Linked DNA regions of Homo sapiens: region 1 is linked to region 2. Evidence: fine-mapped expression QTL. A gene starts in region 2. The other region holds a variant in brackets. All regions are shown on one strand. Distances are between the middles of the regions. Region 1 overlaps EHD1 (EH domain containing 1). Region 2 holds the start of EHD1 (EH domain containing 1).

Evidence for each region. PIP is the estimated chance that this variant, and not a neighbour inherited with it, causes the effect.
Region 1: its variant is the best candidate, but not a certain one, in a credible set for the expression of EHD1 in whole blood (INTERVAL, PIP 0.55).

The regions. Positions count from the first base shown.
Region 1 is chr11:64,846,869-64,862,009 of GRCh38, forward strand. EHD1 (EH domain containing 1) reads right to left here. Exons shown (of 5, transcript NM_006795.4): 3 at 13,056-13,468; 4 at 8,454-8,618; 5 at 4,774-7,989. The coding sequence ends at 7,465. Among named protein-coding and RNA genes, the nearest start is that of CDC42BPG, 9.8 kb to the left of the region's middle. RefSeq lists silencers at 281-370, 6,807-6,866 and enhancers at 4,797-4,846, 5,017-5,146, 6,464-7,462, 7,463-8,461, 7,709-8,908 and 5 more. The variant C/T (reference allele first, on the strand shown) is at 8,162.
Region 2 is chr11:64,869,935-64,885,075 of GRCh38, forward strand. It overlaps EHD1 (EH domain containing 1), which reads right to left and starts at 8,687. Exons shown (of 5, transcript NM_006795.4): 1 at 8,127-8,687; 2 at 4,487-4,584. The coding sequence starts at 8,530. MIR10392 (microRNA 10392) reads right to left here and starts at 8,675; the gene lies at 8,589-8,675. It also overlaps the pseudogene RPS16P6. RefSeq lists enhancers at 6,824-7,600, 7,264-7,363, 10,686-10,835, 11,006-11,055, 11,116-11,205 and 3 more and silencers at 3,802-3,992, 7,524-7,593, 8,444-8,493, 8,514-9,073.

The DNA.
Region 1 (15,141 bases), 23 kb before region 2:
CCCACCTCAGCCTCCTGAGTAGCTGGGACCGCAAGCCTGCACCACCACGCCTGGTTAATTTTTAATTTTTTTTTTAGAGCTGGGGTCTCTCTACATTGCCCGGGGCTGGTCTCAGACTCGCCCTGCCTCCCATGTGATCTCCCCAGAGGCCCGCCCTGTAGCTACGCAGGGCCCATGGGCTGAGAAATGTTTGGGGAAACAGAGTCTGGGTGTATTACCTAAATCAACCAGAATGGGATGGGGAGCCAGGATTCAAACCAAACTCTGGGGATCCCCTTCATTGCCTCTGGTCTCCTGGAAGGGGGAGGGGGCAGGAGTTCAGATCCCTCTCACCTGAGAGATTCTGAGCCCTCCTTATAGGGGCGGGGCAGGGGTGGAGCCCACAGGAGGTAGGAAGGGGCTTGCTCACTGAGGCCACACGGGGGCGCCAGAGACCAGAGGAGGGACAGGCGCTCCAGCCAGCATTAGGGAACCGGAGATAGGGAAGGGCTCCTGGGTGGGAAGATGGGCCTCTCCTCCGCTGCCCCTCGTGGACACCCCTGGTGAGGCCTCTGGGCCCTGCCTCACTCCCTGTGTGACCTCAGGCAAGTCCCTTAACCTCTCTGGTAAGTTCTCAGAAAGGTTCATCCCCAGCCATCTGTCCATCCCCACACAGTATAGCTGAGTGGACACTGAGTCCCAGGGCTGAGGCCAGGGCTGCACGGGGCAGGGCTGGGACTGGCATTCGGCACCTCCCGCCTCTCACACGTGATTCTTTCTGGTCCTTTATTAGTTTTTGTCACATCTGTCTTGTAAGCCTCAATTTCCTTGTCTGTAAAAGGGGGTTGGGTCCGGGCATGGTGGCTCATGCCTGTAAGCCCAGCATTTTGGGAGGCCGAGGTGGGAGGATCACTTGAGCCCAGAAGTTCAAGATCAGCCTGGGTGACATAGTGAGACCTCATCTCTACAAACGAACTTAAAAATTAGCTGAGTGTGGTGGTGAGAGCCTGTAGTTCCAGCTACTCGGGAGGCCAAGGTGGGCGGATCACTTGAGCCCAGGAATTCAAGACCAGCCTGGTCAACATGGCAAAACCCTGTCTCTACTAAAAATACAAAAATTAGCCTGGAATGGTGACACACACCTGCAGTCCCAGCTACTCGGGAGGCTGAGAAAGGAGAATCACTTGAACCTGGGAGGCAGAGCTTGCAGTGAGCTGAGATTGTGCCACTGCACTCCAGCCTAGGTGACAGAATGAGACCATGTCTCCAAAATAAATAAATAAATAAAAATAAAGGGGGAGGGTTGGGCCCCCTGCTCATTCCTTTGCAGCTCCAATGGAAGGAAGTCTGTAAAGGCTCAGTCTCTTTCTGAGCTTATTCCAGCCTTAGCAAGCAGCCAGGCCTCCAGCCCTGACTGCCCGAAGCAGCTCCAGGGCATGGCACCATGTTGGCTCAGCAGATCTGTTTTCTGATCCTGTGGGGCCAGACCACTAGGGCCACAGCAGCCTTGACACGCTCCCCACAGAGCCCTGAGCATGGCACAGCCCAAGGCCCAGCTCACAGGGATGGGTGAGTCTTGACAGGAGACACCCCCGAGAGCCTCAGTCACACCCTGTCCAGGCAGTCAGGCCACCCTCTTTCCTTTCCTTCTCACCAGGGTACCTTCATTCAAATGCCTCCTCCATGGTCGACTACTCCCCAGGTGCAGGAGGGCTCAGCTACCCCCCGCAGCCTCTCACTCATCCCGCAAGCCCCTTGGTACTGAGGGACATCACTAGCTCTCTCACCCAGCTCTGTGGGGAGCACTCATGCTGATAACAGCTTGCAAGTGTAAGGGGCCTCTTGGTAACTTAAAGTGACTTTAGATCTATTATCTTCACAAGGGCCACACTAGGAGAGAGTTATTACCCTCCTTTATAGACTAATGCATGGAAGCTGGGGAGGGAGGTGGTGCCAGCCTTGAGCTCCTTCCTTGAGTGCAGACTCGCCCTGCAGAGGGCAGGTGTGTTGGGGCAGGGAGAGGACCTGAGAACCCAGCATGAGGAAGTGGCAGGGAACCCTGTGTCTGCCCCCAAGGGCATAGCCCTCTGTGGCTGGGAGCCCAGACACAAGGCAGGTTGCCCAGGTCTGTGGCATCCTGGCCACATTGGAGGGCTGCTGAGCCCAGGGTTGGAGCGCCCCCTTCCTCAAAGTCCTGAGAATCAGCCTTCAGGGGAAGGCCTAGGATGAGAGTCTCCAGCCGTGGCCTCGGGAAGCAGCTCCCACCAGATGGTTCTTCAGGGCTGGCAGGAATGGCGGCCGCCCCCTGCCCTTAGCCACTCTGGAAACGTGCACATGGCATAGTGGCCCGCTCCTACCCAGGAGGTCAGGACATGAGAGGCTGGCCTTGGGTCCTGCAGCCCTGCCCGCTGCTGACCAGGCGTGGGGCCTTGGGTAGATCTCTTCCTCACTCTCTGGACGCTGTCTTTTTGTGTATAATGGAGAACTGCACCTGTTCAGGTGTGAGAGACAAATGAGCTTCCCAGTATGGCCACCAATGGCCGTCCCAACCTTTCTCTGAAGGAGCACGGGCGGCAATGTGATTGGAGCCGGGGAGCTCCCTAAGCCCACCCTTGAGCCTCAGATGCCTGGCTCTTATTTGAAGGTGCGTCTGTTGGGATGGCTTTGGGAAGGAGCTGATGCAAATGCTAGGGGTGTGGACCCCCCAGTCCCCCAGCTAGTCCTGGCAGCCCCCTCCCCAACCCCATCTGCCCAGCACCAGGGGCGTGTCCTATGAAAAGTCCAAAGCTCCAAATGGGTGGACATATGGTGGTTTCATCATCCTGGTTTTTCTTCCAAAAACCTTCCCTGCAGTGTTCCAACAAGCCATAGGGGCTCCCACGCTCTGCAGCGGCTGCAGCCCCATGTGGTTTTACAATTATCAGTCCCTCTGGGTGCACAGGAAGCCAGGCCCGAGCCCACTTGGCCACCACCTCACTAGCCTACAGGCGCCACTGAGTCTGGGAGCTGCTTCAGGGAAGGGAGGGGCTGGCCTGTTTTGTTCTGGGTATTGGGTGAGGTGCCCTGCTCCCTGCACCCCACCCGACTAACCTCCTTGGGGTGCTTGGCAAAGGCCGCTCAAGGTGGGTGTCCTCGGGCTCTGCCTCTGTGGGCCACATCTGTTCCTGAATTAAGGCTTGAGGAAATGGCCTCAGTGGGGGAAGAGATCTGGCTAGAGTGGCAGAGCTGGGAGTTGAACTCAGGGCGGTCTCCCCAAGGCTGCCCTCCACGTGCTGCCAGACCTGGTGCGCTTTTAACACAGGAGTGGTGGCCGGATGTTCTCACCTCCCAACTCTCACCACCTTGCTGGCCGTGGCCGGGCAAGTCCTATGACTAGCCCATTTGATTTATTTTATGTATTTATTTTTGAGACGTAGTCTTGCTCTGACGCCCAGGCTGCAGTGCGATGGTGCGATCTTGGCTCACTGCAAACTCTGCCTCCTGGGTTCAAGCGATTCTTGTGCCTTGGCCTCCCAAGTAGCTGGCATTATAGGCGAGAGCCAGCACATCTGGCTAATTTTTGTATTTTTAGTAGAGACAGGGTTTCACCGTATTGGCCAGGCTGGTCTCAAACTCCTGACCTTATGTGATCCACTCTCCTCGGCCTCTCAAATTGCTGAGATTACAGATGTGAGCCACCGTACCCGGCCATTATTTATTTTTTACTGGTCTATTCTTCTAGAACACCCATTTGAGATAAGAACAGGGCACTGACTGGATTTGTGGTTAACTTCTTTTCTAAGGAGAAGAAATGTTTATTTAAAAAAAATTTTTTTTAAATAGAGACAGTGTCTCACTGTGTTGCCCAGGCTGGAGTACAGTGATGCCATCATAGCTCACTGCAGCCTCAAACTCCCAGGCTCAAGTGAACCTTCCACCTCAGCCTCTCAAGTAGCTGGGACTACCCACAGACACCCATCACCACTCTTGGCTAATTTTTGTTTTGGTAGAGATGGTGTGGGGGCGGGGGGGGGGGCGGGTCTCACTATGTTGCCCAGGCTGGTCTTGAACTCCCGGCCTCACACGACCCCACCTCACCCCCAACCTTGGTCTCCCAAAGTGCTGGGATTATAGGTGTGAACCAAACCCAGCCAGAAATGTTTATTCTGAATGAGATCTTACAAGGAACTGCAACATAGAAAACAGCTGTGCATGGCCAGAGGCAGTGGGCGGGCCCTTTGCCTCTTGGGTCCTGGGCTGTGAGGTGCTGCGTGGGCGACAGATTGCCCTGAAGGCCTCAGTCCACGGGCTCTGGTAGCTGGGTGGCAATGCCCCTCCTTTGCCCCAGGCCAGCCTCTGAAGAGGAGGCTTCTTCCCCAGGGTCATGGCCAGCTATGGATCTAGGGAGGAGGCGAGGGCTGGGACTAGCCCTCTAGGTGGGCGGCCACATCTCTGACCACATCCTCTGGTCCTCCCTGAACCCCGGTCGGAGCCCAAAGATGATCCCCAACCTGTAGAACCGAAACCAGGGCTATGAACTCTGGGGCAGACACCTGCCCTCAGCCCCTTTCAAGCCTCAGATCAGCAGGCGCTTCCTGGGGCAGCCCCAGGGGGTTCACAGCCCCTCTGTGGCCACACAGAGCCCTGCAGGTGGAGTGCTCCGGGAAGGAGAGCGGGCGGCCAGGCAGCACTTCCCTTCCTCCTAGTTCAGGGGCACTGCTAAGTTCTGTGCCTTCTCTAATGTGCTCACAGCTTGAACAAAAATGCTCCACCTCCCTTGGGTGACCCCTGCCCCAAGCTTTCAGGACCCCAGGCTGGAGTGACAGCATTTAACCTTTAATGTGGGTCTCTCAGCCCTGAGTACAGCTGCAGTCTAAGGGTGGGGTTGGGGGGATCTACCGTTTTTTCCTCTTAGTGTGTGCTTTGGATTAGTAACCTGATGGAAAGCACGCTGGAGTTGGACGGCCTGGTTTGCATCTGCTTCTACCACCTTTGTTATTTCGGCAGTCCTCAGTCTCGGACTCTCCCTCTGTGAAATGGGGGAACATGAACTTCCTCAGATCGTGACAGCGCAGCTCCACCTGGCACAGGGTGAATGCCCACAGGTGGCAGCTGAGTGACGCAGGGAGGGCCGGCCAGCCCTGCAGCAACTGAAGCATCCACTGGCACCTCAAGTGCTGGTCATAGGACCAGACACCACCACACCAGCTAGGCTCGGAGCACACAACTGGGTCCCTGAAACCCTCAGGAACTTGTTTCTGTCCTGCCTTCTGCCAGAGGGGCTGGAGCAGCCTCTACCCATGGCACCTCAAGTCTGCACCCTTTTATGAAGGGTCACTAATCAGTCACCCTTCCCTCTGCTGGTATAAACAGTCCCCCATCTGTGACATCACCTGGGCCTGACTGGCCCCACCCTTAGTTGCATGTTTGTCACAGGCTATCTGCTTTGTCTTCAGAGGCCCGGCTTCCCTGTACTTAAACCGTCCTTGGGGCTAGCAAGGAGCCAGTCTGGCTCCAAAGCCCAGAAACCCTTGTTTACTTGATGCCACCCAGTGCCGAGGGCCTGCAGGTGCCCACTCATCCGTCTGTGGCTGAGGGGTGCCAGCCTAGGCCTCAGCTATCAACATCCTCCCAACTGTTTCCCCCCTCCCCACCCCAAGTGAACTGCTCAGCTCCCACCTTGCTCAGGGAAGGGGGCATCACCCCAGAAACCCTTTTCCCTACAGGCCTGGCCCTCTTAGTAGGAGGGGGCAGCTACTGCCCAGCAGAGCAGGACTGGGCAGGGTTGGTCACCTTGCCCCGGCTGCCTTGCCACTCTGTCCCTGCTGGCATCACCCCCTCAGACACCAGGGGAGGATGGCCCAGGACTGCTGCCCCTGGAAAAGACAAGGAAGCACCCGAAGCTTTCGCACAGTTCAGACTTTTTAATGCAAGGAGAAAGTCTTCACTTCTCTTCCCACAGGTGTGAACAAGCCACTGCAACTTCAACAGTGACTTCCCGGCAAGGACAGCGCCCGCATCCATCCTCACCTAATACTGTATGGAGTGACGGGCTAAGGAGAACAAGGCCAGTTCCTGCAGACTCCGAGCAGCGCTGGGGAGAAGCTCCCTGAGACCCCCGCGGGAAAGCCTGGTGGGAAGCCCAGCTGTGTGGTACCTGGTGCTCCACCTGCCTTGGTGCCATCACAGCCCGGACAGTGGCCACTGGCCTGCAAACGCGCCCGGGCCCTGGAGGCTGGGCTCAATGGCCCCAGGCAGAGGAGGGGGAGGCGGCCTGAACTGGCCCGGGCCACTGGGCCGCAAGGTTCTGGTTTCTTATTGCTCAACCTGGGGGCCAGGGGCGTTGTAAGGACATCCAAGTGAGCTGCCCTCCTTTGCTAAACAGAGGAGGAAGGAAGGTAGGAAATGAAGGGGGATTACAGAAGGGGCTGGGTTTTCCCCTGGTCCCCGCTGTCTGGACATGAGAGCCTAGCCAGAACCACGGGCTTCCTCTTACCAGCACCAAGCTGTCGTGAGGCCCCGCCACCGCCACCCACCACCACCTCCCACTGTGGAGGGTGCGTCCCAAAGCTCCAGTTAAGTGAGAGGGTAGGGCAGGAGCTGGGATGACCACCCTTCCTCAGCCAGGAAATGCAACACTGGGGTCCAGGAACGGGGTGCTCCCCGGGTACCCACACCTAATGCCCCCTGGGCAGGGCTGCTCCTTGGCTGGAGGGTGGGAAGGGGAGACAAAAATCACAGCTTTTGAACAGTGGTTGGGAAGTTATTGGGAACTTTGGTCAAGTATGAAAGATATCACTTTACAGAACAGAAACTAGCTTATGTATTTTTCTGGAAGACATTCTCCTACTCCCCTGAACTCCCAAAAAAAGACCAAGGTGGCTGGGCCCTGCTTCTGTGACTGCTGAGCGGGGTTGCGCGTCGGAGCCGGTGGGGCGCGGGAGGAAAGGGCAGGGCCCGCGCACGGGGAGCCTGGGCCCGGGAGGGGAAGGCACAAGAACCCACTTCGCCCGAGAGCACGGGGGAGGCAGAGCCAGGTGAGGAAGGAAGCCACGGTCCCGTGAAGCAACCTCAGCTCAGAAGCACACGGAGGGTGCCTGGTGTTCCTGTCCATGCAGCCTCAGCCTAGCAGCTGCCAAAAGGGCGACCTGGCTCCCCCACGGTCGCAGTCGCTGCACTGTCCAGCTCCAGCCACAGCAAAGGCCGGGGGGCAGAGGCCGTGCACACAGGGCTGGCACACAGGGGAGGCGGCGACAAAGAACGCAGCCTCTAACGTTATATATTAAAATAGCCACAGTTCTTGTGCACACAATTCCATCCTCTCACCCCTGCCTCCCCCGCCAGGCCCAGGAACAGCCTTAAAAGAAAGATGGTGGTTTTCCTTTTCGAGAGGCGAGGAAACATCCGCTCAGTCTTTATGGACCTTGAGAAATGGTGAGGCTTCCCCTCCCCCCGTCTCTGCCTCCCGGCCGGGCGTGCAAATGGCAGGTGCGGGGCCGGGCGCCATCACTCATGTCTGCGCTTGGAGGGCGGCACCAGGTGCGGGGGCAGGTCGGCGGGCAGCTCGTGGCCCTCCAGCTTGACCTTGATGAGGTGGTTGGCCAGCGCGAACTCCTCGTCGTCCAGCAGCCCGTCCTTGTCCACGTCGGCCAGCTTCCAGATCTTCCCTAGCACGGTGTTGGGGAGCTTGGACTTCACCATCTCCTTCTTGGCGTTGGCGCCCGTGATCTTGCCGTTGACAGGGGACAGCGTGTAGAAGATCTCGTCGTAGGTGGGCTTGTCCTTGCCCACCACCCACTCCACGTCGTCGATGCCCTCGCCGGCCCCCTCGCCGTAGCCGTGCCCGAACGGCCCGTTCATGGTGCCGTCAAAGGCGCCGCCCTTGACCACCTGGGAAGGCATCAGGGACTCCTCCTGCCGCACCATCACCATCAGCCGCGCGATGTCGTTGGCCAGCATGTCATCCACCGTGTCCAGCAGCTTGGGCTTCAGCGCCTGGAACTTGCTGAAGTCCTGGGTCTGCAGGAGTTCCTGTGGGCGGGGGAGGAAGGACAAGGGCTGGGAAGGGAGGCCCCTCCCAGACTCCAGGCCAAGTGGTTCCAGTCAGGGCTTCACAAGCATAAAGTGCTGCTCCCCCACACTAGCAGGGGCGACTCGGCAAAACCATCTGGCCCTTGGCTCTCTAACCTGTACACAGGAGGCA[C/T]CTCCAGCTCTTTCCTTGCAGGGCTGCGGCAAGGATTCATGGACAGGGCACCAGAGCGCCTGGCATGGCCCTGCCCTCCCCCCACCACGCAGGGTGAGTCACCACATTCCCCTCTGCAGTGTCACCGCCTGGGTCAACTCTGAGTTGGGTGGGGTGCTGGTGATTAACCCAGCTGCTTCCGTTCAGGGAGGCCCTTCCCCATGGAGATGGGATTCCCTCCAAATCCAGTGCCCTGGGCCTTCCTTCTGCCCTGATGGCCACCAGCCTGCATGGGGCCTCGGGACAGCCGTACCTGCATCTTGCGGAGGCTCGGGAAGTCCCCAGGGGAGATCTGGTGCTCGCGCTCAATCTTCTGGTAGATCTCTCCGAGGTTGTTCACCAGCTCTTTCTTTTTGCTCTCTTTACCAAAGACATTGGGCATCTCTTTCTTGAGGGAGCTGATGATGTAGGCGTGAACCTGTGAGGACGGGGTGAGCATCAGGCGCTCTCTTGGCCCAGGCTGCCCCCGAGAGCAGAGCCTCCAAGGACACTCCAAGGATACTCCAAGGTGCTCGCTCAGGAACAGGGAAGCAGGAGGGATGGGTCAAGCTCAAGGCCGCTACCACCACCGGCTCCCACAGTCCTAGGAGCAGACACAATCTGGCAAGAGCCACAGCTGTCCACTGCCACAGGACAGAGGACAGGACAGGAAAACGCACTTGAAACAGAAGACAACAGCCTTGGCCTTGCACGGATCATTGTGATGATTCAGGAAGAGTAAAACCCAGTCTGTCAACCCAAAGAAGGCAATTTGTCGTGTACCACTGGGCACATCACACACCCTCTGTTCAACCCTCACCACGCATCACACACCCTCCGCTCAACCCTCACCACGCATCACACACCCTCCGCTCAACCCTCACCACGCATCACACACCCTCCGCTCAACCCTCACCACGCATCACACACCCTCCGCTCAACCCTCACCACGCATCACACACCCTCCGCTCAACCCTCACCACACACCCTCCGTTCAACCCTCACCACAGCCCTGCGGGGTGGGATTCTCCCAACCCGGCCCTAAGCAAGGCTGGGAAAGGCTGCCTGGGGTGCTTGGCTCCCACATGGAGGAGCTGGGATTGGAACCCCGGGCTGCTGAAGGTGCCCCACAGCCCATGTTCTTCTGTTTCTCTGCAAGCCCCCTTCCCCCGAGCTGCCCCCTCCCACGCAGCAGAGCAGGGAGCAGGCTTCCTGCAGGGCCCACCAGCCTGCACGTCCAAATCCCTGCTGAGTGCCGATGGAGCCCACAGAACTCCAATGGGCCCGTGCCACGCTCCACTCCATCATCACAGCTCGGATGACGAAGGATTTGAAAAATCCCAAAAAGGCTTCTCCTGGTGGTTGCCAGCTTTATCCAAGCATCAATACCTTGCTTAGGCATGTGCCTGTTCAGGGCGGCACCCCCTTCATTTCCCTGCAGCAAGCTGGGAACCTGGCAGCCCTCGAGAGTAGCCCAGCCCTCAGATCCCTCGGCCTTGCCAAGTCGTGTCCAGCCACAGAGGGCTGCGGCCAGCCAGCCTTGCTGCCCTTCTCCCCGGCTCCAGCCCATCCACCACCCCGCTCAGCCTGAGCCTGTGCCCTGGGTGGGGGCCTGGCTGAGAACTGCCTGAGGGAGGCAGCCCCGTGCCATGTGGGTCTGGATCTAGAGTCTCCCCAGGGACACTGTGGCAGGCAGATCCCAGGCCGGTGGGAGTCATCACAGAGAGCACCACTCACTCCAGGAAAAGGAAGTGGCAGGTGTGAGGCAACACTGGAGGCCACAGGGTTTTCCAGGCGCGGTGACTCAGTGTGCCTGGGGCCTGGCAGTCACACATGGTCTCACAGACGACCAGGCAGGGGCTCATGCCTGCCCCTTGTCCTGTCTGTCCTCAAAGGTGGCTGAGCAAGGGAGCTCTCTCTGCCCTGCAAGGAGAGAAACTCAGCTAGGGCCACACCCACACCCCTCAGCTCAGGACGTCCTTTGTCCTTTGAGGCCAGGGTCAGTCACCTGGGTTTTTGTATGGGTTCCTCTCTCAAAGCTGGCTCCACTCACAGGGAGGCTCCAGAAGGGAGAGATCTAGAAAAACATCCAGCCAGCCGGGCGCGGTGGCTCACGCCTGTAATCCCAGCATTTTGGGAGGCCGAGGCAGGCGGATCACCTAAAGTCAGGAGTTCGAGACCAGCCTGATCAACATGGTGAAACCCCGTCTCTACTAAAATATAAAAATTAGCTGGGTGTGGTGACGGGCGCCTGCAATCCCAGCTACTCAGGAGGCTGAGGCAGGAGAATGGCTTGAGCCTGGGAAGCGGAGGTTGCAGTGAGCCGAGATTGCGCCACTGCACTCCAGCCTAGGTAACAGAGTGAAACTCCATCTCCAAAAAAATCAAAAAATAAAATAATAAAATTAAAAATAAGAAAAACACGCAGCCCTCTGTCCTCCAGAGCCGGCATCTGACCCACGCCCGTGCACACAGCTCACGGAGGTTCAGGCCAGAATGAGAATTCCTCATCTACAGGGTGAGGTGGGGCCCAGGGTACTTGGGGCACAATGGGAGGACAGTGGTGGCAAAGGATGAAGGGTCAGTTCTCACTGCTCAGACCAGGTAGCACCCACATGCCCTCTGACTGGCCTCCAGACAGAGTGGGTACGAGGGCCACTGTGCTCAACGCCTGCAGTCTCCATGCCTCTGAGCAGGCAGGGACATGGGCTCCCCAGGAAGTGCCCATCCTCAGTCCTCAGTTATATTCTGGAGATCAGGGGACTGTGACCCTGGCCACAGGCACATCTGTCACTGAAGCCTTCATGCCCACATGATGTCTACCCTGGTACCCCCTGCATGCCATGAGGTGGGGGCAAGCACCCTGCTCTGTTGAAGAACTGGGGACGTATCACCAAAGGGCCTGGCTTGGCAGGCAGGACAGTTCCCCAGCCACGCTCCGGCCTGGCTGGCCTGGAGATAGGAGCTACGGCAAGGGCCTTTTTTTTTTTTTTTTTTTTTAAATTAAATAGAGACAGGGTCTCACTAGGTTGCTCAGGCTGGTCTCTAACTCCTGGCCTTAAGGGATCCTCCTGCTTTGGCCTCCCAAAGTGCTGGGATTACAGGCGTGAGCCACCATGCCTGGCCAGAGCCTATTTCTTTTCTTTTTTTTTGAGACAGAGTCTTGCTCTGCCACCTGGGATGGAGTGCAGTGGTGTGATCTCAGCTCACTGCAACCTCTCCCTCCTGGGTTCAAGTGATTCTCCTGTCTCAGCCTCCCAAGTAGCTGGGATTACAGGCACGCACCACCACGCCCGGCTAATTTTTGTATTTTTTTTAGTAGAGATGGGGTTTTGCCATGTTGGCCAGGCTGGTCTCGAACTCCTGACCTCAGGTGATGCGCCCACCCACCTTGGCCTCCCAAAGTGCTGGAATTACAGGATGAGCCACCATGCCTGGCTGGAGCCTATTTCTGAAACAACCGAGCCCTGTGCTAAGAGCCTGAAAGAATAGCTAGGTGCCCTGCTGATACAAATGTGGGCTTGGTCACTTCTCAGCTGTTCAGACAATCTGTGTCAAACACTCCTGTCCACGGGGTCAACCCCAACCACAGCCGGGACTGTCACTCATGGTGACTCGTCTAGGCTGGCTCACGATAGGGTGCTATCCAAAGTCAGACACGCCAAGGGCATGTGTTCTGTCATTCTGTGTTGGAAGGGCCCGCTGGTGGCATTAACCTTTGTTTCCTGGCCCCACCCACACCGGCTCTCACTCAAGTACTTGGTCAGCCACTGAGATTCCAAACCCTTTGGCCATTCAGAGGCTGCTGATAGGTGCCACCAGGCCTGGGCTGCCAGGAGACCTAAGGATGGTCTGCAAGGCCTGCTGAACTGACACTGCCTCAGCGTGACCTTGGCTTCCATGCACAGTGCTCCCCGGGCTGCAGGCTGGCACCCTGTCTCCTCACGAGCTGCTTCCTGTCACAGCTTAAGCTTCAGCTCCTGCCAGGCCCCCCCAGCCCTTCTACTCCACTGGGACAGCCCCTAGCGCCAGCTCCCGCAGCAGCCTGTGCTCGCTCCGAGACGACACAAATAACTGATGTTTATTTTTTGTTTGCGTGCTCTGCTTTCCCCATGAAGGCTGAGGAGTGGACAGGGGCTGTGTGTCACTCCCCGCCAGTACCCGGCATCCAGCACTGTGCTGAGTGCACTTCAGGCTCAGTAAACCCCAGAGGGGTAATCCCAGCACTCTGGGAGGCTGAGGTGGGCAGATCACCTGAGATCAGGAGTTTGAGACCAGCCTGGCCAACATGGTGAAACCCTGTCTCTAATAAAAATACAAAAATCAGCTGGGCATAGTGGTGCGTGCCTGTGATCCCAGCTACTCGGGAGGCTGAGGTAGGAGAATCATTTGAACCTGGGAGGTGGAGGTTGCTATGAGCCGAGATCATGCCACTGCACTCCAGCTTGGGCAACAGAGCGAGTCTCCGCTTCAAAAACAAAAACAAAAACAAAAAACCCTAGAGGGAAGCCAACAAGCCTTAGAGCTCTATCCCCCAACACTCCATTTCTGAGGCTGCCTCCTTTGCTTCAGCGGTAACTTCCTGTGTGCTGTTTCTGTGTTGTAAGCACAGTCAAACCCTTCCTGAAAGTAGATGGGGTATAAACCACAAACAGAACAGGTTTAGAGGGAGGCCGGGTAGAGAATCTTAGTTAAGAGCAGGCTGCACGCGGGTGCTGACCAAAGACTGGTTTCTATAGAGGGAAACAGCGCAGTGCAGGTCTGCCTGTGAAGTGAGCTGGGAAGGGTCTCGGGCAATCCTGGGGCCCTGAGTGCCAGTCTCAGAGCCCCATGGCCCTGCCTGGCAATAGGCTGCTCCCCTCACCCCAGGGTCTACCTTGGCCAGCCGTGCCCGCTTGATCAGGTCATTGAGCTTCCTGAGGGCGGCGTTTCGGGGCAGTGACTGGATGTCCTTGAAGAGGTCCTGCTCCTCGGCCTCAAAGAGCTTGCGGTTGTCGGGGATGAGGAGCGGGTGGGACCAGAAGGAGCCGATGTAGACCCTGACCACCTCGGGGGTGTTGATGATCTTGCCCAGGGACCACATGAGGGCCCCGTACACCCGCATCAGCTGCTGCGTCTCGATCTGGTCTGCCTTGTTCAGCACCACGCGGATCTTGTCCTCATGGTTCTTCAGAGCCTTGATCACTTCCGAGAACTCATCGGAGATGTCCAGCTTGTGGGCGTCGAAGAGCAGGATGATGCGGTCCACACGCTCCGCGAACCACTCCAGGACGGCTGCAAAGTCATAGCCTGGGGGGAAGAGAAGGGAGAGCTCAGGGGCGCCAAGGGACCTGCTGCTCTGATGGCTCTCATCTCCAACCTGGCCTGGTATTTCTCAGCCTGAGATAGTTTTTAAAATTCCTATAGGCCGGGCGTGGTGGCTCACGCCTGTAATCCCAACACTTTGGGAGGCCAAGGTGGGAGGATCACGAGGTCATGAGTTTGAGGCCAGCCTGGCCAACATAGTGAAACCCTGTCTCCACTAAAAATACACAAATTAGCCGGGCAGGGTGGCGCGAGCACTCAGGAGGCTGAAGCAGGAGAATCGCTTGAACCCAGCAGGTGGAGGTTGTGGTGAGCCAAGCCCATGCCACCGCACTCTAGCCTGGGTAAGAAGAGCAAAACTGTCGCGAAAAAAAAAAAAAAAAGAAAAGGCCAGGCACAGTGGCTCACACCTGTAATCCCGACACTTTGGGAGGCTGAGGTGGGTGGATCACAAGGTCAGGAGTTCAAGACCAGCCTGGCCAACATAGTGAAGCCCTGTCTCTACTGAAAATACAAAAATTAGCCCGGCATGGTGGTGGGCACCTGTAATCCCAGTTACTCGAGAGGCTGAGGCAGGAGAATTGCTTGAACCTGGGCGGCAGAGGTTGCAGTGAGCTGAGATTGCGCCACTGCACTCCAGCCTGGGCAACAGTGTGAGACTCCATCTCAAAAAAAAAAAAAAAAAATAGCCGGGTGTGGTGGCACATGCCTGTAGTCCTAGCTACTCAGGAGGCTGATGCAGGAGAACTGCTTGAAACCAGGAGGCAGAGGTTGCAGTGAGCCGAGATTGTGCCACTGCAGTCCAGCCTGCGTGACACAGCGAGACTCCGTCTCAAAAAAAAAAAAAAAATTCCTAGGTGTTCATCTAGACAGCACAGCACCCTGAGGGCAGGATTATCTCCCCTATTCCTGCCCCCACCATAACACTCCCCAACCCATGTAGCACTTGGCATAAACAGGTGCTAATGCAAAGGTCGTCCCACAGTGCAAGCTCTAAGGTGGGTCAGAGGAGGGCGAGAGTGAGGAGGAGACCCAGCACTGTGCTCAGCACAGCACAGAGGGTAGAACATAGACTCCAGTGTTGCCACCTGCCTGCTGTATGCCCTGGGACGGTAGTGACAAGAGGCGCCTGCAAAAGTAACTGCAGCTGCTACTTTTTCAGTGCTGATGTGCCAGGCTCCCCATTTTGCAGGAATCTCACTTATTTTCTGCAACAAGGGTTGGCAAACTACAGCTCAGGGATCAAACCTGGCCCACCACCTGTTTGTATAAATAAAGTTTTATTGAAACACAGCCATGCTCATTTGTATTATCCATGGCTTCTTTTGTCTAACACAGCAGAGTTCAGTCGTTGTGACAGAAACTATAAGGTCTGCAAAGCTGGAAGTATTAACTATCCCACCCTTACAGAAAAAGTTTGCTGACCTCTGCTCTACAAGAAGCCCAGGAAGTGCTACGAACCACTTCCCCTTCCTGGGTCTTAAACACTTCTCCAAAACAAAGTGGTTGGACTGGACAGACTCCAGCTTTAAGCTCCATATTCTTTTTAAAAAAATTTTATATTCATTTTTTTAGAGACAGGGTTTTGCTCTGTCACCCAGGCTGGAGTGCAGTGGCACAATCTTCGCTCACTGCAACCTTGAACTCCTGGGCTCAAG
Region 2 (15,141 bases):
AGTGTGGGCAGGGAGGCCCCATCCAACCACTAAGGATCAGGACAGCTCCCAGGCTTAGAGGGAGCCTGCAGACCACCAGAGGGCAAACGAGAGCCCAGGCCACCAGGCTCCCTGGAGACCCCAAGGGATCATTTATGGCTGGGAACAGGGAACACAATACCAGCACTGCTGTTCAAAGCCCCAGACCTCAGGTCCATTTCAGGACTGGAGTCTAACCTTGGGTGGGAGAGAAACAGAGGGTGGCCTCTGTGTGTCTCAGGAGGGACACACATTACTGTGTGTCCACAGTAATGACCCAACAGGGGCAAAGGTCTGTCTGACCCAAGCTCCCGGCACTCCTTCGCCCACAGCCTTCATGCCAAGGCACCCTTCTCAGCTCCGCCGCAGTAGGAGCACAGCCCCTACCTGGGTTCAAATCCTAGCGCCGACACTTGCTGGCCTGCCTGTCATCTTAGGCCAATTACTTAACTTTCCTAAGCCTCTGCTTCCTCCTCTGAAAGGCAGGAGCTTCCTCCTAGATGCAGCTGCTGTGATAACTCAATGGAACTCACTGATGTGGCAGTGGCCAGCAGAAAGTCAGACACAAAGCTGGCCAGGTCTCTGATCTGCTACTGCAAGTAGAAACACTACCCTGCTGATGCTGATACAGCTTTCATGGGGAGATTGAGACACAAAAACTCCCGCTTAGTTCACAGTTGCCTAGTGACCATGGTGGGGAACGAACGAACTGGCCGGGCTGCCCACAGAGGCCCCGCCGGGGGATGACTCGGCATGAGGCACTGCCGGGACCACGCAACTGGTCGGCAGCCCCTGGAGCCAAGGGCACCACCCCTGCCGGACCCAGCTGCCCTTTGGAATGCCCTTATCAGTCACACAGGCAGCACTCAAGAATGAACGCAGCCCCCAGAGGCCACCTTTCTCTGCTGACACAGGAGAACGGTATCTTTAAAGTCACTCAGATTAGCACACAGGCAAAGGCAGCCCAAGAGACCCCAACCCGGCCCCCTTCTCGTCCCTGAGGCAGTCCTCAGGGGTCCCTGACAGAGCCTGGCTGCATCCTGACTGCTTTGGGCCTGCACCAGCCCACCTTATCTTTTCAGACCGTGTTTCCTGCACACATTAGGACCATGGGGAAAGGGGAAAAAAAGTCAGGAGGGGCCAGGCGGGGCCAGACGGGGTGGGAAATGGAAGTAAATGCAATTAGCAACCCCAATGTCCATCCACGGCCTCCACAAGGACATGTTTCCAGGGAACGGGCTGGCAGGCCAGGGGAGGCGTGTTGTGCTGGGGCCCTGGTGCGTGCTCTGCCGGCCCCATCTTTCCGAGAGGGAAACACCTGCTTTCCACGCCACCAGCAAAGGCAGTAGCAGGTGGCCAGCCCTGCCGGGAACGCACTGCTCCACTCCGACCTCCTCCGCTGGACAGGCCACACGGGCCTTTCCATGACTGACGGGCGGGGCCTCCAGGAAACAGAAATCCACTCCTCCTGTGTACACCTAGCGGGGCTCATCCTGGAGTTTACACCCAGCACCTCCAAGAGGTACTGAGCGATGGTCTTTCTCCTGACAATAAAACACCATCATTCAAACCCTAACCAGGTAACTTTTAGTAAAACACATCTAAACCAAGGCCTCTAGGGCTATGGAGGAAAAGAAATGGTCTAGTAAAATCGGTTTGATCTTCTGCTACTTCACAGCAGGAAACCCCTCCTCCAATCAGCGTGATGTGCTTCTCTTTCAGCCACCGGCTCCTTCCTGCCCATAATGGGTAGAGATGACCTTCTGTGGATATAGGGGAGCCTGGCCTCTCAGGGATGCAGAGGGGCCACACTTTGCACCTGGAGGGGAGAGGGAGGCCACACAGGCAGAGCAGGGCAGCACACTGACAGCAGCCTCATGTCCTGCTGGCTTGTTCCTCCAACCTGTTGTCTGCACAGGCAACTCCAGGGCAGGGACCACAAGGCAACACCTACGTCCACCCCTTGCTCCCAATCAAAACGCCATGCTGTGTCTGCAGATCCACTGATATGGAGCATACACTTTGGTGCTTGTCCCAGAGACAGCCAGTGTAGACACCTCTGCCTGCCTCTTTCCTACCAGGGAAAGGAAGCAGAGGGAGTGGGAGGTGGGGAGGGAGCATCTCAGAGGGCAGGGGCCAAGGCAAGCAACACAAGACATACAACCCCAGCCGAGCATGATGGCCCGCGCCTGTGGGCCCAGCTACTCGGGAGACTAAGGTGGAAGGATCACTTGAGCCCAGGAGTTCAAGGCTGTGATGATGCTTTGAGAGGCCGAAGCGGGCAGATCACCTGAGGTCAGGAGTTCAAGACCAGCCTGGCCAACATGGCGAAACCCCATATCTACTAAAAATATAAAAATTAGCCAGGCGTGGTGGCATGCACCTGTAATCCCAGCTACTCAGGAGGCTAAGGTGGGAGGATCGCTTGAACCAGGGAGGAGGAGGTTGTAGTGAACCGAGATCATGCCACTGCACTCCAGCCTGGGCGATAGAGCGACACTCTGTCTCAAAAAAATAAAAGAGTAACTTAATCAGATTTTCTGACCTTGCTTTGGCAAATGACAGGGCTTTTGCTTATCCGGCATTTACTAAAACTAGGTTGGAACAACAATAGCAGTAAGAAATAAAAATACTAGCCCTCGCTTTTTTTTTTTTTTAAAGGGGTCTCCAAATCTACTCCCTTAACTCCTAGGTGCATCACTGTCACCAGGGGTGGGAGAATCTAACAGCTTAACTGGCAGCTCTGAAACCAGATGAGGGCCAGTGATTTCAGTACGCTCTGATGCAGTCCCACACGGGCAAGGCCCGCAAGGCTGGAAGGAAAGAGAAGCAAGGTTTCTCAGCTCCAAGAACAGAGTCCCCATGCCCTCACAGCCCTAGCAGAGAGACATGTGCACCCCAAATCCTAGCTGCCGGCTTTGACTGCAAGGCTCACCCAGCAAAGGCCAGTCCAGAGGGTAAGGGACACGGGAAGGATCTGCAAGTTAATCATCAACAAACTTGCTCACTTGTCCTCAACCCCTCTTTGAGTTTGATCTTATTTCATTTTCACATTTGGAGCTGTAGACTCCACTCCTCACCTGCCAGGTACCAGCCTACCCTCAAGCTCCTCCCAGAAAGCATCAGGCCCCAAAGCGCCCCACCCGTCTGTGAAAAAGGGGCAGTGACAGATGGAGGACCCAGTTCAGGCTCATCCTGAACCAGATCTTCAAAAGAGCTTGGCAGAATCTAGGCAGGAGTTTACACAATTGGAATGGGCACGGTGCACTACTGCATAGCAAGAAGGCCTCAGCCAGGGAGGCTGCTGTCAACCTCTAAGCAAATGTAAGCAAATTTCCACCAGCCCGTTTCATGAATTTCTACCAGCTTCTCCTTTTGCTTGGCTCTCTCTCAGTCCTGCTGGACGTGTGAGGAATGTATATGGCTTTGGGGGGCAAAGGCTGTTAAACACAGACTAAAGCTAATAAGCTCTGGGGACCAGGGGCTTGTTCAGAGTCAGCAATGCTTCCTGCACCCTCACAGCATGGCCCGATTCTGATCCTGTTGTTTCCAGCATGCCCCAGGGGTTCAAAAGCATGACAGCCACATAAGATTGGCTGTGGTCTCACCATGGCTGCTCCCATTGCCTAGGCCCAGGGAGCCAAGAAAGAAAGCAGCTCCCGCCCTCTCAGTGCACAGAGCACTGTGGAGATGGGAGGCTGATGTAAAATGGGTTCTTACTCGGACACTTTTTTTTTTTTTTCTGAGACGGAGTCTCGCTGTCGCCCAGCCTGCAGTGCAGTGGCGCGATCTCGGCTCACTGCAAGCTCTACCTCCTGGGTTCACGCTATTCTCCTGCCTCAGCCTCCCGAGTAGCTGGGACTACAGGCGCCCACCAACACGCCCAGCTAATTTTTTCTATTTTTTAGTAGAGATGGGGTTTCACTGTGTTAGCCAGGATGGTCTCAATCTCCTGACCTCGTGATCCGCCCACCTCGGCCTCCCAAAGTGCTGGGATTACAAGTGTGAGCCACCGTGCCCGGCCACATTTTTTTTTTTAGAAAGGCTGAGACTGGAAGAAATCTCGAGGGCAGCCAGGTGTGGCGGCTCACGCCTGTAATCCCAGCACTTTGGGAGGCCAAGGCGGGCAGATCATGAGGTCAGGAGTTCGAGACCAGCCTGGCCAATATAGTGAAACCCCATCTCTACGAAAAATACAAAAATTAGCCGGGCGTGGTGGCACATGCCCGTAGTCCCAGCTACTCAGGAGGCTGAGGCAGGAGAATCGCTTGAACCCAGGAGGCAGAGGTTGCAGTGAGCTGAGATCGCGCCACTGCACTCCAGCCTGGGTGACAGAGTAAGACTCCGTCAAAAAAAAAAAAAAAAAAAAGGAGAAATCTCAAGGGCAGCATCTGAACCAAGTTGCAGATCTTAGAGAGAAGGATGTGTGACAACACCAGCAGCCCGAGCTGTGGTCACAGCTGTTTACCTCTGCTGATCCGCTGCTTCTCTCCAGACAGGATCCCGGGGGTGTCGATGATGCTGATGCTGTCCAGGACGGGGTTGGGCAGCTGGGCACACATGAACCTACATGAGAGCAAGAGCCAGAAGAGAGGCGTCAAGACACAGTCATCACTGCTCCGGACACAACAAAGGGCTCTCTGTACTCCTTCGCTCCATCTCTGGCTTCCTCTCCAGCAGCGGGGAACTGACAGGTGGTTTTCTATCGTCTTAGTTTCCCGGGGTGGCCGGCAAATCGTATGGACTTTCTCAACTGGGAATGCAACCAGCAGGCTCAAACTGACCCAAATCAGCACTTCCTCACACACTTTTCCCCTAGAGTTTGAGAGGTCAACTTTCAAGCTGCTGACTTGTTAGTGAAAACTGTGCAAGCCTAGGTCACCATTCAGTTCGGAGGGGAAGCAGAAGGTCACGCTGGGGCGCTGAAATCCCATCTCAGAATCCTCCAGCACTTGGCTAAATCTCCACACTGAAGAGAGCTGGCCGCTTCCTACTGCTGCTAGGGCCAGCCCTGCCCTTTCAACCAGCCGCTTGGGTGAGGGAATTGAAATGGACGGCTGGCAAAAGCTGGGGACCACACAGGCTGGTAGACGGTGGGACGGAGAAGCACAGACGCGCCATTCTCTGAAAGTCCGAGCAGGCTGAGGAAGAACAAAGCCGTGGAGAGGCTGGCGACTTGCGGGCCAGGGCTCAGCCACGCATATCTGAGTTTCACACTAAGCTTAGAACAGCCCAGAAAGGCAAGGGGCAGTCTCAGTTGAGAGCAGGGATCCTTCACTGGACGCAGAAAAAGCTCCTTTGAAAAGTTCTCTGAAAGGCCAGGCGTGGTGGCTCACGCCTGTAATCCTAGTACTTTGGGAGGCCAAGGCAGGCAGATCACTTGAGGTCAGGAGTTCACGACCAGCCTGGCCAACATGGTGAAACTCCATCTCTACCCAAAATAGAAAAATTAGCTGGGCATGGTGGCACGCGCCTGTAGTCCCAGCTACTCGGCAGGCTGAGGCAGGAGAATTGCTCGAACCCAGGAGGTGGAGCTTGCAGTGAGCCGAAATTGTGCGCCACTGCACTCCAGCCTGTGCAACAGAGCGAGACTCTGTCTCAAAAAAACAAACAAAAAACTTCTCTGAAAAAGGTAGTGAGAGCAAAGAAAAGACTGACCCATTATCTGTAGGACACAGACTTGAAGCTGCCTTTCCAACAGACGGGAGGACTCTGAGCCGATCAGCTTCTCCCTTTGGCCCCATCCCCCAGTGACCAGGGGCCCACGGGCAGAGGGCAGCTGGCCAGGGCAAGGGGTGCTCTGCAAGGCAGTGGAGCAAGACCAGCTGACCTGCAGGGCGAGCAAAACGTGGGCCTCACTCTCGCCAGTGCCAGTAGCAATGCATGAAGGCCAGTCCTGGCCTTCCTGCTGGGGACAGGAGGCGCTGGAGAGATGATTACAGAATAGAAGGATGGGAAGCAGAATTGGCTCTGGGAAATCACATACATAAAAATGCCTCATAAATGAGCCCAGAAAGTGAGTTAATATCTATAGGACCCAGAAACCAGTTGCTCTGCAGAGCCCAGGGTATATGGCAGAAAACAAGAAAGGGGAAGCAGCAAAGATGCCTCCGATTCCATCTCACCAAGAACGCACAGGTTTCATCTCGCACAAGTGGCAGTCCCAGTTATGCAATAAGTTTTTGCAAGACACTCTTAAGACACCCTGACTGCACCTTGCCTTGGTCTGCTCCAGCTGATTTTATTCTTAGAGCAGCCACATAGGGGGAGAAGGCCGGCAAGTCAAGTTCACGACTCAATGAGTCTCTTCAAGACTCAGCTGGGAGAGGCTGTATCAGCCAGAGAAAAGCCTCCTTTGTTGCACCCTCCTCGCCGGGCTCACTCCCCACACTACACATCCTGGCACAGCTCTGGGCCTCAGCGTGGGCTGATAGGGCCCTTTCGGCAGGGCCATCAGTGATCAGGGATCCTCTGGAGATGAGGTGGCAGCAAGAAGGAAATAAACGTGTGCCACCTCTCAGATCCTGTGGCACCAATGTCATCAAAGCACCGGTCTCGGACAAAGCAATCTCGAATTGCTCTTTTTCGGGTAGAAGCAGCAGAAAGCAGTAACTGGCTGTGCAAAAGCCAGGCAGTCAGTGCTGGCTGACCTAATGGGTGACTTCCACACATCAGCCAGACCCTCTGAACCTCGGTTTCCTGAACCAGTCAGGTGGGGGCTGCCAAGATGATGTCTAAGATCCTTCCAGCTCTGAAACTCTAGGCTTCCAAATTCAGAAAACTGGTCCTGTGCCATGTCTCTCCTTTCAAAAAAGGTGTGCCCTCACAAGGAAAGTGAAGAGGACTCCGCCTCTTCAGGACCCTTAGCCCAAAGGGCTGCACTCAACCTGGCCTTGACAGACAAACATCAACAGCCGTAAAACAGGAGGGCGGGCTGAAATGCCTGGAAGTGAACAGACCCTGCTGAAGGTCAGCTCTGTGCCTGGAGTAGGCCTGGCCACCAGCTTGGCTCTAGGGCAAGCTGCCCTGCACAGCTGGATGGCGTCTGGAAAGGAATGTGACCGTGCAGGGCGGGGACCTGGAAGGCAGGATTCAAAGATTCCTTCAGAGGCTCTTCGCTGGTGCAGAATTATGAAAGGCATGTGGAGTCCGTGAACGTGGGGTGGCAGGGAGGACAGGGTCTGTGAAGTACTTTGGTATGTCGCCTGGGGGTTGGGACGGGCATGTCTCGAGTTTCTCTGGAGAAAAGTGAGCTTGGGCATTGCACTCCTTGAGGGGCGGGAGCACTGTGTTTCATTCACAGCACTGAGACAGGCAGAGTCCTGGAGCTCACTCTCCTCGCGTGCAGAGGCCACTTAACTGGAAAAGTGAGGTCCAAGTGGGTGAAGGAACCTCAGATTCTGTCCCTCAGTGCACAGAAGGGCTTAGGGCCAGAATCTCATTGCAGGGCTCCCACTGCCACCACCTCATCCTGCTTCCTGAAACCCCTCAGGGCAGCACTGACCTCTTGAGAGCTGCCATTGGGAGAAGTGTTCGAACCTCAACTGTCCCCTGCCTCCAAGGGGCTGCCCCAAAGTCAGCAAGCCACAGCCGATCCTCCTCCTCCCTCCTACACAAAACCACCGTCCCAGGGGAGGCAGAGCAGACCCACACCGCACCAGAGAAGGGAATGGCTAAAAGTTTCATTGTGTTTTGCTATTGACACTTAAGAAGACAGGGAGGGGAGGGTTGATTTCCGTGAATTAGGTGCATCCAGCCTGCGGGACGGAGGTGGAGACCAAGAAAAGGAGCGCAGGAATGGCTCAGCTTCCTACTGCGGCCCTGCTGCTGAGGGGAGTGGGGCTGGGATCTGCAGGAGGGCTTGGTGGTTACCCTGGAAGATTCTGGGGAGGACAGAAGCTGGGGGAGCCGACAACGCCCACTCTTAGACCCCCAGTGGGTTTACTCTGGGAAGGGGCAGGGCCCTTGGACCAGGGAGTGGTCACTGAGGGTCTCACTGGGGCCTCGGAGACAAAGGACGGCGGGGCGACAGCCACGGGAGGGTCAGGCTCCGAGTGAGGGGTGTGCCCCGGACGCGCCCCCCGCCCCCTGGAGTGATGGGTGGGTACCTGTTGAGGAAAGCGTTGCCAAACGCGTTGAGCTTGCGGAAGGGGCGCCGCGGGTCCACCACGAGCGCGTTGCCCGGCACCACGCCCTCAGTGGGGCCGTGCATGACGGCGATGAAGGAGTCGGTGGTGGGCTCGGGCCCGATGCGCATCCCCGGGAAGTCCTGCTCGATCAGGTGTCGGATGAAGGTGGTCTTGCCCGTGCTGTACTGCCCCACGAGGAGCACCATAGGCTTGTTGTCGAAGTCAGCGTCCTCCAGCGCGGGCGAGTGGAACTCGTGGAAGCGGTAGTGCTCCTCCAGGGGTAGCAGCTTCTGCGCGTACAGCTGCCGCAGCCCCTCAGCCACCGTCTGGAAGAGCTCCGGCTCCTTCTTGCGGCGGGCATCCTTGCTGACCCAGCTGAACATACTGCCGGACACGGGGCTGGCTGCTGCGGGGCAGAGCGGCGGCTGAGAGCGGGGCGAGGGTGCGGAGCCGAGGCGGGGCCGGCCGGGGCAGGGAATCGGGAGCGACCCACACTGCGCAGGCGCACAGCCCAGCCCGTCGAAGCGCCCTCTGCCGAATGCTGCGCACCCCTCGCGGAGCGGCCTTTATAGGGTCGGTCCCTCAGTGGCGGCTAGCGCCGCCGCGGCGGGGGCAGGGCGGAATTGGGGGCGGTAGGGAGGAGCCCCTCCCAGCCCCGCCCCTCCGACTGGTGCCACGTCTTCCCCTACCCCGCCCCCATTGGCTGATTCCAAATCTCGCGAGGCTGTGGTCCGGGTGCCGTGGCAACCGCACCTGTTTCGCCCCGCCCCTCGTAGGGAGGCTCGCGAAAGTGCTGCGGTTAGGAAGGCGAGGAGCGGGCGTTCGGCGGAGACGGCCTCTGGGCCGCGCGCCTTCCGGCACCGTGGCCCCCCCACACCCCCGCGGGATGGCTCCACGAGACACCCAGTCAGGCACCCTGGTTCCCTGACTACGCGCCGCGCCCGCCGTTCGCCACGTGCGGTCCTCCAGCTGGCTCGGAATCCCCGGAAGCATCGGAGTACCCCCAGGCGGCGGCACCTCCTCCTCTCAGCCCAGCTTCCCAGACACACACTGTCTTTGTCCCCTCATCTTTTATCTGCTTTGGGAGAGGGAGAGACAGGAAAGTGGTAGCAGAGCAAGCTGAGGGAGTAGAGAATCCGGGGCGGGCTGGTGACTGGGGAAAGAAAAATGGGCAGCGAGAGGCCTGACCTCCCCTCAGGCCGACGGGGTGGGAATGGGAGAGGGACGCAAGCGAGGGAGGACATGGGTGACACCGGACTCGCGCGGGAGAAGAGAAGGCTTCCCCACAAAGGCTATAGCTGGGGCAAGGCAGGGAGGGCATGAGGAGGAAGTTGAGGCTCTCTGGCCACTTGCGTATTGGGAAGTGAAATCGGAAATTCCCTATGTGGGGAAGAGGGGAAGTGTGGGGGCAACAATGAAATCTTGTGGGAATTTAGGGGGAAGTTTAAAAACCCAAATACTTCCACTTTCCTCTCGGGGTCACCACCATTTACCATCATTTACTGGGATCTGTGCCCTACCTCCCCTTACCAGTTCCTGGCTGTTCCATGGGGCTCACTCCCCCGCCATCCTCCCCGGCCACACACAGACCCCTTTGGCTGTCCAGGCTGGTGAGAATCTTCAGTGGGTGATGTCAGAGCTTTGGGGACTGATTGTTATGTAACCAGTATCAAGACACCAACCTGTGGTAGCAGGACCCTGGGGGCTCTTAAAGAGATCTGAATTGAACCTGCGACTTTGAAAGCCTCAGGTCCAACTTCCTCGCTTCTGGGAGATGTGGAAGCCTGGAGGGCTAGGGGCCTGTATCAGGGGATAACTTGGGCTGGTAGGCTAAGAGGAAGAGGCAGGAACTCAAATCTGAGAACGGGGGATATCTCAGGGGAACTGAGTGGTGGAATCTAGAGAGGACACGATGGGAGGTTTGTTCGCCTACCGCTTGTAAGATCCCTTCCGAGGGAATAGATAGTTCCCTTGCCCTCCCCTCTTGCTCCCTAACCATTGGAGAGCGGATAAGTAATTCCAACCCTGCCTGCAATCTTACGCCCCTTAGTGCTTTGATTTGATTCTTTTCATCATAGTAAAGCACACAAGCTACTGCCCCCCCCCTTTTTTTTTTTTTTTTTTTTTTTTGGTGTTATTCTCAAAAGAAGATACTGAGGCTCCTAGGCAGAGCTGTCACCAGAGGCTGCATGCCAATTGGTGACGAGGAGCCTCCGGCGGGCCTAGTCCAGACTTCCCGGGTCAGCCTTAGAAGCCACAGTGTTTGCCTCCTACTCAGCACTGTTAGGGATCCACCCCGGAGATGCAGTTTCTGGGTTGATCTAGGGAAGGGCCCAGGGCTGAGGATCCTGAATGAAGTAGTTGTTCAGTCGTCTCAATGAGGCTGCTCCAAACTGGCGCCCCGGCAGCATTCTCATTGACGCGCCATGGTTTTCAAATCTCCCCAGAGCCCTGTGTGCTGGGAAAACCCAGCCCTAGAAAACTGAAAACAACAAAATGTTCCTGGGTTATTTATAAACAAAACCCAGACCCTGTCGTTATGTATGGCCACTTGACTTTCTCCAAAGATCTTAAAGGACTGAAAGAAGGGATCTCTGTCACCCTGGTGAGGCCCACGTGACCAGCAATTAGTTTCCCCCAATTTCATGGAGTTGGCACCCAGCTTCCAGGCAGCTTCCTTATCTTGTCATGCCCCACACCGAAAATGTCCTAATTTTTTTTTCTTTTGTGTTTTCTGAGTAGGGCAGTTTGTTTGGTGGGAAAGTTGTATAAAATGTGAATGCACCCTTTCACTTTTGGTTTCTCCGCTGTTTCACTTTCTGCCTGTCTGCCTGAGCCCATGGCAGATTGATGGAGGGTTCAAGTATTTTTCTTTTATCTCAGAAACTGTGCCATCCCCCACTCCCAGTGTTTTATTCTTCAGTTAATAAATCCATTCCCTGCAAACCCAGGGCCTTGAGGTACCCCCTAGCTCTCCTCAGAAACGCCCTCATCCAGCAGAAAGGGGCCTCACCTCCCCTCTAAGTGGTCTGCTTGGTCCTGTCATGGCCTGATCTAGGAAAACATCTACAAGGTCCCTAGAGACAACTTAAAAAAAAAAGGCCAGGTGCAGTAGCTCATGTCTGTAATCCCAGCACTTTGGGAGGCCGATGCAAGCAGATCACCTGAGATCAAGACCACCCTGGCCAATATCACAAAACCCCGTCTCTACTAAAAATACAAAAATTAGCCAGGTATGGTGGCGTGTGCCTGTAATCCCAGCTACTGAGGAGGCTGAGGCAGGAGAATCGCTTGAACCCGTGAGGTGGAGGTTGCAGTGAGCCAAGATCGCACCACTGCATTCTAACCTGGGCAACAGAAGGAGACTCCATCTCAAAAAAAAAAAAAAAAAGAGAGGTGCCTTTTCCGCTTGCGGTGCCGTGCAGTGAGGAGCTCTTATCTGTGCTCTTGGCTATGCCATCCAAGGGCCAGCTGCAGTCCGTGCAATCCACTGCAAACATGGCAGTGGCCTCATCAAGGTGAATGGATGGCCCCTGGAGATGATGGAGCCGAGCGCTGCAATTCAAGCTGCTGGAACTAGTTCCTAGTTCTGCCTCTGGGCAAGGAGCAATTTGCTGACATGCACACGCATGTTTGTGTGAAGGGTGGTGGTCATGTGACCCAGATTTATGCTATCAACATCAGTCCATCTCCAAAGCCTTAGTGGCCTATTACCGGAAATAAATGGATGAGGCTTCCAAAAGGACCAGAGGCATCCTCATCCAGCATGACTGGACCCTGTCAGTAGCTGACCCCCGTTGCTGCAAATCCAAAAACGTTGGAGGCCCTGGTACCTATGCTTGCTACCAGAAATCGTACCAATAAGCCCATCACAGGGACCAGGATTCACCTATATAATAAACTATGTTTGAGAGTGTTTTTTTTTTTTTGAGACAGAGTCTCACTCTGTGTCACCCAAGCTGGAGTGCAATGGTGCGATCTCAGCTCACTGCAACCTCCACCTCCTGGGTTCAAGTGATTATCCTGCCTTAGCCTCCCAAGTAGGTGGGATTACAGGCGCCTGCCACCATGCCTGGCTAATTTTTTGTATTTTTAGTAGAGACTACTAAAAATACATGTTGGTCAGGCTGGTCTCGAACCCCTGACCTCAAGTAATACACCCACCTCAGCCTCCCAAAATGCTGGGATTACAGGCATGAGCCACCGCACCCAGTCGATATTTTTTTTTTAAGGAGTTTTTCTCCAAATATGGCAGAAAAATCGAGCTGAGAAAAACCAAAACATAGGTTTCTCCCTGGGATGAGGAGTGGTTCATTCTTTCCACTGACAGAGTTTGCATATCAGCACAGATTTTTGTTCTCACAGTCATGAGATTTGGGCAACAAATCAGTTTTCCCGACACAAGGTGAGGAACTGAGGAGGACTGTTCTTTTGAATGCCGGGTCTCCCACACTGGCAAGAAGAGTGTCCTCTCCACACCATGAGGCCTTTCTCTTGCAGCAGCTGTGGCCCTTGGGTGATGGCTCTGGGGAGATTGCTGGGCCCCAGAGGGCTCTGAAGGCATCTGGCAGCCAGAACATGGCCCAATTTGGAGGTGACCGTGTCAGAATCTTAGCTGCTTTCAAATTCCAGTGAGAAAGAGCCTGAGGCCCGGGATGTCCAGTGACTGCTCGAAGTAGCCCAGACTGAATGAGAATCTGGGCCTTCGGAGTCTTTTTTTTTTGAGAGGGAGTCTCCCTCTGTTGCCCAGGCTGGAGTGCAGTGGCGTGATCTTGGCTCACTGCAACCTCCACCTCCCGGGTTCAAGTGATTCTCCTGCCTCAGCCTCCCGAGTAGCTGGGACTACAGGCGTGTACCACCATGCCCGTCGGCTAATTTTTTCTATTTTTAGTAGAGATGGGGTTTCACCATGTTAGCCAGGATGGTCTTGATCTCCTGACCTTGTGATCTGCCTGCCTCGGCCTCCCAGAGTGCTGGAATTACAAGTGTGAGCCACCACGCCTGGCCAGGGCCTTCTGAATCTTAACACTGCCCTTTCCACACTCCAGCCACTTGAAGTTGCAAGGACGGGCAGGTGGAAAAGCAGAGAAAGAGGGTTTCAAGAGCCTCTTCCCCAGATGCAGGCTGAAGTGAATCTCTGCCCTGAAGCTCACCAGCCCTTCCTAGCCCCTTTGCTGCTCTGCAGCCTGGGGGACAGGCTTACACATTTATCAGGATGATGTACACATATAACTGCACAGTGCTTTGCAGAGCTGAGACTTATAGGTCTCTGAGCACTTTCAGTAAAAGCTCTAGTTCACCTGCCAGTTTTCTGTGTGTGTGTCTCAGTCCCTGCAGCTTCTGGCCCTGCCTTGCTGGGGCTGATGAGGCTGGGGCTGCCGCTGAGTGCAGGGTGCAGGGTTTGCCCTAAACTTATTGGAGGGCCCAGGCCTTTGCCTGACTCCACAGGAAATGGCTTATTATTTGGCACATAAGCAATCGCCTTCTGTGGTGACAACATTAGGGGGTCCCTTGTGGGGTGCTGGGGTCCCCCTTGCCCTACACTAATGAAATGGAGAGTGTAACCCCATTGTCCCCCAGCCTCAGCAGCCTGAGAGTACAAGTGAGGTGCATGGTCTTAGCCTCCCTTGTATGAGTGCAGACTGCTGCCGTGCACACGGCCCCTCTGCATTTCCGGGGGCTCTGAAGTGTGTCTCGTGTGTGCAAGAACGAGCCTGCCCAAGTTCTGCTCCAGCTGCCTCTCCCTTGCCTTGGCCTTGCCCTGCTGTGGCCCTGAGCCTCACCATGGGCTCACAGGCTGGGGGGCTGGAGGGTAATTCTGTCCCCAACTCTGTGTCACACTCAGCCACCAGGGCACAGAGCCCAGCCCATCTTCAACAAGCCCAGCTCCTCACTCCCACACCTCAGGAGTCAAACATCGTGCCCAAGGCCACCCTCCTGTCCCCTCTGCTGGGCGAACACCTCCCTCCTCCATCCCCCCAAATTAAAGTCTCTTTGTAGGTCACTTGGGGTGGTACATGGTGGTCCCCCAGCCCGCCTGTCTGCCGACACTCAGTCTCCCTCCCCGTCCTGTGGCCCAGCTGCCACATTCCTCTCACCTGCAGCTTCTTTACTGTGCCCTTAAGTACAGAACATGGTGACGCTCCATCTGCAAGGAGACTGGAGACCAGAACCCTCCCCTGAGGCCCACGTCTGCCCAGGCACCATGCTTGCTCCTAGAGGTACATGTTGGGGTGTCCCCGAGGGCAGGAATATAGTGGGACCCTCTCAGAGGTGGGGTCAGGCCTCCGTCTCCTGCTCACCCAACCTGGTCCCCTGCCCCTTGGCTCCATGTCCTGTCCCAGAAACACCTCTCTTGCCCTTTGGTCATCATTAAGCAGAATTTCAGGATGTCTGCAAGATCCCCCACCCCTGGTGTACATATCCAGTGTAATGCTGGGAATGCGGATCTGGTGACTTACTCCATGACATGCGGTGTTAGATGGTGCAGTCCACTGTACAAAGGGAGATAATCCCAGTGGGCCCCCCAGCTCACTGAGCCCTCTGAAAGCAGAGCTGGCTGGACAGTGGCTTACACCTGTGATCCCAGCACTTTAGGAGACTGAGGGGGTGGGTCACTTGAGCCCAGGAGTTCAAGACTAGCCTGGGTAACATGGCAAAATCCCATCTCTACCCAAAATACAAAATATTAGCTGGGTGTGGTGGCATGCACCTGTAGTCCCGGCTACTCAGGAGGCTGAGGTGGGAGGATCACCTGAGCCAGGGAGGTTGAGGCTGCTTCGAGCCATGATTGTGCTACTGCACTCCAGCCTGGGGGACACCATGTGGAAAGGAATGTGGGTGACCTCTAGGAGCTGAGAGGGGCCCCAGCAGACCACCAGCAAGGAAACGGGGACCTCAGTCCTATGGATGCAAGGAACCGGATTCTGCCAACAAGAATGAGCTTGGAGACAGATTCCTTCCCCTGCCTCCCGGTGATAGGGCAGCCTGGCTG